Linked DNA regions of Homo sapiens: region 1 is linked to region 2. The links come from fine-mapping of genetic effects on plasma protein levels. Region 2 holds a variant in brackets. A gene starts in the other region. All regions are shown on their forward strands. Region 1 holds the start of CCL27 (C-C motif chemokine ligand 27). Region 2 overlaps PPARA (peroxisome proliferator activated receptor alpha).

The links. PIP is the chance, under the fine-mapping model, that this variant and not a neighbour inherited with it causes the effect. The UK Biobank Pharma Proteomics Project read protein levels with antibody pairs (Olink). The fine-mapping took linkage between variants from a reference panel, not from the people measured, so its PIPs are less certain.
Region 1: CCL27 starts here. The variant in region 2 is fine-mapped to the plasma level of the CCL27 protein (UK Biobank, PIP above 0.99).

Annotation. Positions count from the first base shown.
Region 1 is chr9:34,662,200-34,665,061 of GRCh38, forward strand. CCL27 (C-C motif chemokine ligand 27) reads right to left here and starts at 458. Exons shown (of 3, transcript NM_006664.4): 1 at 365-458; 2 at 85-217. The coding sequence starts at 434. LOC730098 reads right to left here. Exons shown (of 3, transcript NM_001320038.2): 3 at 1,964-2,862. The coding sequence ends at 2,835.
Region 2 is chr22:46,158,968-46,161,872 of GRCh38, forward strand. The region is part of intron 2 of PPARA (peroxisome proliferator activated receptor alpha); the gene reads left to right. LOC105373074 (a long non-coding RNA gene) reads right to left here. Exons shown (of 2, transcript XR_938315.3): 2 at 2,075-2,355. Among named protein-coding and RNA genes, the nearest start is that of PPARA, 9.9 kb to the left of the region's middle. The variant T/C (reference allele first, on the strand shown) is at 1,171.

The sequences.
Region 1 (2,862 bases), not on the chromosome of region 2:
ATTAGCAGTTAGGGCTGGGGTTGGGATCAGCATTAGGGGTTGGGACTGAGGTCAGAGTCAGGGGTATCAGGGGTGGGAGCTCACACGAAAGCCTGGAGGTGACAGTCCCCGTCAGCCTCCTGCAGTTCCACCTGGATGACCTTCCTCAGTAGCTTGTCTGAGAGTGGCTTTCGGTAGAGCTGAGTACAGCAGGCAGTGCTGGGTGGCAGTAGGAATGCTAGGGGCAACAGGGCCATGTGTTCAGAGGGATCCTGACCAAGAACCTCTCTGCCAGACAGCTGGAGGTTAGGTTGGATTTCCTGGGTCTTTTCAACTTCATCCCATTCACCCAGACCCCCAGCTTTCTATACCCCCAAGTACTCACCTGCTGTAGGGTCTGGGCTCAGGAGCAATGACAGCAGCAGGAGGCTGCAGAAGGTTGGGGGCCCCTTCATGTTGCTCAGCCTAGACTCTTCCTTCTCTCTCTCTCCTCCTCCCCTACCTTTTATCTGGGTGCCTTTTACCTGGGGCACTAGGTGAGTCAGAGGCAGTTGGAGATGTACTGTGTAACCTGTGACACTCCTGGGCCCTAATTCTCGGCCTGTTGCCACAGACTCCTTCCTCATCTAGGATAGCCATTTCCCATGTGCTCCTAAGCTCTGGGCAGTGAAGCTGGGGGAAGGATTAGTGTGTGATGTAGGGACTGATGGAACAGTGAGTAAGGGCAGTCAAGCATCCACAGCAGCATCTAATGATAGACATTCACACTCAAATACGCATAGCCACACATTCAAAGTCACTCCTCAATCACTTGGTCAACCTCACAAAGTCATACTCATGATCAGACAACCGTAGACAAAATTATATAGCCCCGGTTATACTCAAAGTCCCTCTCCCACCCAATTGTGTTTTCACAGTCATCCAATCACAAGCAAATTCACACTAGCACACACAGATTCTGACAGGGGAGTTGTGGGTGGGGTGGGAGCAGAGGGCAGGCAAGCACCAACTTGCCTTCACCTTCTCCTCCCCACTTCCTGGCTTGGCCTGCCTGTCTTATCAGAAGAAATGGATGGGAATGGGTCCCTAGAGCAGGCCCTTCTGGCTGAGGAGGGTTCTTGGCTGAGGCCAGCCCCATTCAGAGAAGCTGGGGGAAGGCCCTTTATGGTAATATTAAGGGTGTTTTGGAGATGCTGAGGTGGGGCAGCTTTCCCCAGGATGATGAGACAGGGAGGAAAGGTGGGGTAGATAAGGAGGGAAGATAAAAGCTCTTTGGTGCTAGGTTACTGTTGTCAAAACAGGTAAAAGGCCCAGTGAATCTTACCTTCCTGTTTTTGTCTAGTCCTGTTCCAGGAATGCCAACCTCTTGCCAGCAGGGGCCTAGGGTCTCCAGATCCAGTCCCTGACTTGTTGAAGACATTGGACTCAAGCACTCAATTACATCTTTGTTTTACTCAAATTCCAGCCTCCTTCCTGGGCCTGGAGGAACATCCCCTCTCCCTACCCGGGTTCAGTCACACCCTCATGTCCAACTGCTATACCCCCTGCATCCCACCCTCCAGCTATAGCCGCTTCTCTCCTAATCCCATACCCAGCTGTCACTCCGTTCTTTACCCCCTCCCTGCAATGCAAAGCTCCTATTCATCTTTATCCAGTCCTTTCCAGGAAGCTGGGAGCTGCCTAGGGTGGGGGTATGCTGCCAAGTTCAGTGCCCCTGGCTCCTTTAAGAATTTCCCACTCCTGGTCCAGGGATCTCAATCTGCAAGTCCTGCTCTATATTTGAAACATAAACCAAGTCATAACACAGTAATCCAGCCCTTATCTTGTTGCAGTCGTCTGCTGTAGGGTCAGCCACTCTCTATGGAGTAGGCTTTCTCTTGGGATAGGGCTTAGGCCTTTCTCTTGTGTCCCAAGGCTTGTTGGGTGTAGCCACTGAGGAAATCCCAAGGAAATCTCCCAGGTTCCTCGGGCTTGTCATAGACCTTCTTCATCACTTGGCTGTGCGCTACATACTTTCTGGTCTTCCCTGGGCTTGTCGGTCCAGAAGTCTTCGGAAGGCAGAAAACAAATGCTTTTGGGTGTGCACCCATCTCTCCCCTTTAAGACCAAGTCTTCTCCCCAGCCACAATCTGCTGTAGCTTTGGCCCCAGCCAGAAACTGGGCCATCTCTTTCTTTAACTTAATCTTGTGGTGCCCTTTCTGGTGCTGGGTCCAGTCCCTAACTGAAGGCAGGCCCACATAGCAGTCCCTGATTCTCACCACTTGAGGAGTTAGTGGGTCCCAGGCTGATTGGGTGACAGAAGGGGGCGGCAAAGAGCAGTGGCCCTTGGACTCTCCTAGGGAGGGAGCAAGAACTTCTAGGTAGGCTGATGCCAAGGATCTCTAAACTTGGGATCAGACTGGAGGAGCCAAAAGTTGGGGTATGAACTGTAGGAAAGGTCGCCAACCCAAGTCGCTCCTCTGTGGCAGGCAGCTTCTAGGAATCTCCCCCTCTTACCATTTACAGCCTGCATCCTACACCTCTGCTTAAAATGTTTTAGATATACTCCCAGCAGAGAAGATTCTTCAGACAGCTGGCAAAGTCCTCGCTCCGAGGAAGGGAGTAACAGGCAGGATTATTTAGTTCTCTTCATATAGGCGACTCACAGTATGGGTTTTTGGGGGTTGGGATTGGGGGAGACAGCCATTGATAGTAACAGGAGGCCTGACACTGATGAGGGGCTTTGACGTGGAAGGGCACCCTTCCAGGGAGGGACGCCCTGTCAGTACGGAACAGAGCCCGTGTGGGGAGGGGCGCTCGGCTCGAATGGCGACAGCGGCGGCAGAGTCAGGAGGTCAGTACGGTGGGCTTCGGTTTAAATCTTTAATGCACTGGCTGGCTGG
Region 2 (2,905 bases):
CAACCTCTGCCTCCGGGGTTCCAGTGGTTCTCCTACCTCAGCCTCCTGAGAAGCTGGGATTGTAGGCATGTGCCACCACGCCCGGCTAATTTTTGTATTTTTTAGTGGAGACGGGCTTTCACCATGTTGGCCAGGCTGGGTCTCAAACTCCTGACCTGAAGTGATCTGCCCGCCTCAGCCACCCTAAGTACTGGGATTACAGGCATGAGCCACCACACCTGGCTTCTGTTCTATCTGTGCATTGGGGATGAAATTAACACAAATGATGTTTAAAGAAAAAAATGCTCAGAGAAGTTAGAAATGTGCTTTAAATTGGAATCATCTCTTAGTATGTAAAAGTTTTTTGTAATAGAAACAAGCAGGGCAGTATTTGACCTGTTGACAGTGTCCTTGGACTTTACAATTTGTGAAGCAGCGTATTTTGCTTGAGTTGTACGATTGTCGTTTTTTTCCCCCCACTTTGACAACTGTTACAGAACCTGTCACCAGATACAGGCAAGGGAGGTTGGGCTTCCCATCTCTGCACGGCTTCCCTGTGATTCACAAGCAAGCAATCAGAAGTGCACAAAAGTTTAGAACGCGATTTTCATTCTCTTCTTTCCTTAGAAAAACTCGCTTTGTTAGCCTTTTCCAGAAAGGAAGGCACTCAATTGTTGTAATACTCAAATCATAAAAAGAAGCCTAGTCTAGTCTATTCAGCAAGGTGTTCTGAAAGAGGGAATTTTTTAAGTTCAATTATGCGAAGATCTTGAAGGTGGGACTCAAAGGAGAGGGCTATCCTGGGAAGAAGGCTTTGGAAAATGAGAGGCATGAAGGGGAGAGGGTATTTAAATGTGTTTGAAGCCAAGGATCCTTGAGAGAAAAAGCTGGCACTAACAGCGTTCAAAGAACTTGCGTGACAAGTGATGACTAATGACACTGAGGGTGGGTTGTGGGTGCCTAGTGAATTCCTCCGAAGCCAAGAGAGAGGTTTCCAGACCCAGGGAAGAAGGTGTGTACACCCAGAAGTAGTGTAGGGACAGAGATTCCGATCACAAGCTGTGACTGGAAGACGCCGACCACCACTGCAGCAGCCTGAAAACCACAGTCTTGAACCGCCAGCGAAGGGCTGGGAAGTGCGGATCCAGGGCTGGTGCACTGAACCCAGAGGAGCAGGCTCCCATTCCCAGC[T/C]AAGGGTGGCAGCTGGCGGGGATCTTTCCAGCAGAAAGCTGTAAGTGGAAGCTTTCAATTCAGAGCAGTAGCAATGCCTTCAAAGTCCCAGGCTTCACGTGGGAACAGAGAATGTGAAGAGTATTTAGCAGGATGCCAATATAAGAAATCTATATTGGTGTTCGTTTGTTTGTTTTTGAGATGGAGTCTCGCTCTGTCACCCAGGCCGGAGTGCAGTGGTGCGATCTCAGCTCACTGCAATCTCTGCCTCCTGGGTTCAAGCGATTCTCCTGCCTCAGCCTCCTACATAGCTGGTACTACAGGCACGCGCCACCATGCCTGGCTAAATTGTTGTATTTTTAGTAGAGATGGGGTTTCACCACGTTGGCCAGGCTGGTCTCAAACTCCCGGCCTCATGATCCGCCCTCTGCAGCCTCCCAAAGTGCTGGGATTACAGGCGTGAGCCACCGCACCTGGCCCAATATTGTTTGTTTATTTATTTCTTGACAGGATCTCACTCTGTCACCAGGCTGGAGTGCAGTGGTGTGATCTCAGCTCACTGCAACCTCCACCTCTCTGGCTCAAGCAATCCTCCCTCCTCAGCCTCCTGAGCAGCTGGGACTACAGGTGCACACCACCACACCCAACTAGATTTTGTGTTTTTTGTAGAGATGGGGTTTAGCCATGTTCAGCTAGTCTCAAACTCCTGGGCTCAAGTGATCTGTCCGCCTTGGCCTCCCAAAGTGTTGGGATTACAGGTGTGATTCATGATGTCCAGCCCAGTATTTTTCTTTCACTCTGGAAACCAAAAATTATTGGCTTTTTTTCCTGTTGCATTCCCTTTACTTAGATGAATCTAGCAAGGTTGGCTGTTAGTGTCTAGGTCAGAAGTCTAAGTGAAAGTGAATATTTAACCACACTCAAGCACAGCTGATGATCTTTAATACTAATAGAGGTATAAGACTTAAAAGAAACAAGAACCCAGAGGGAAAATATGGCCATGGACTCAGAGAAAACCACGGCAGCTTCCATGGACTCATAAAAAGAGCTCAAAACCTAGGAAGTGGATGGAGACTCTTTTTGGAATGAATGAATTCAAATGTGGGCTTTCTTAGTAGATTAAATCATTTTCTAGAAGGAATTTCAGAAGGATGTGTGCCCAATTATGGTATCAGGTCTGTTGTAGACTCTTCAAGGAGGAAGCCTCTGAAAGACAAGAAGGAACAATTAAAAATTAGAATTCAGGTGAGTGGATCACGAGGTCAAGAGATCGAGACCAGCCTGGCCAACATGGTGAAACCCCGTCTCTACTAAAAATACAAAATTTAGCTGGGCATGGTATGGCTGTAGTCCCAGCTACTCGGGAGGCTGAGGCAGGAGAATCACTTGAACCCGGGAGGCGGAGGCTGCAGTGAACCAAGATTGTGCCACTGCACTCCAGCCTGGCAACAGCGAGACTCCATCTCAAAAATAATAAGTAAATAAATAAATAAATAAAAATTAGAACTCAGAAAAGGAATTAATTTCTTCTGAGAGAGAAAAAGATGAGATTCTAGCCTAAGGTGTAACACATCCATCCACCAGGTATCATTTTTATACACGTGAAGTTAAATCACCAAAGGACCAGGTGAGCAGATGTGGACTTTCCGACTGTGTGTGTGCGACTTCCTCAGAGCCCTCAGTGGCGTTCCCTTTTCCGCGCTAGCGTTTGGTCCCTGCGCTTTTCTGGATGCCCCCACCCCCTCTGGCTCCACGA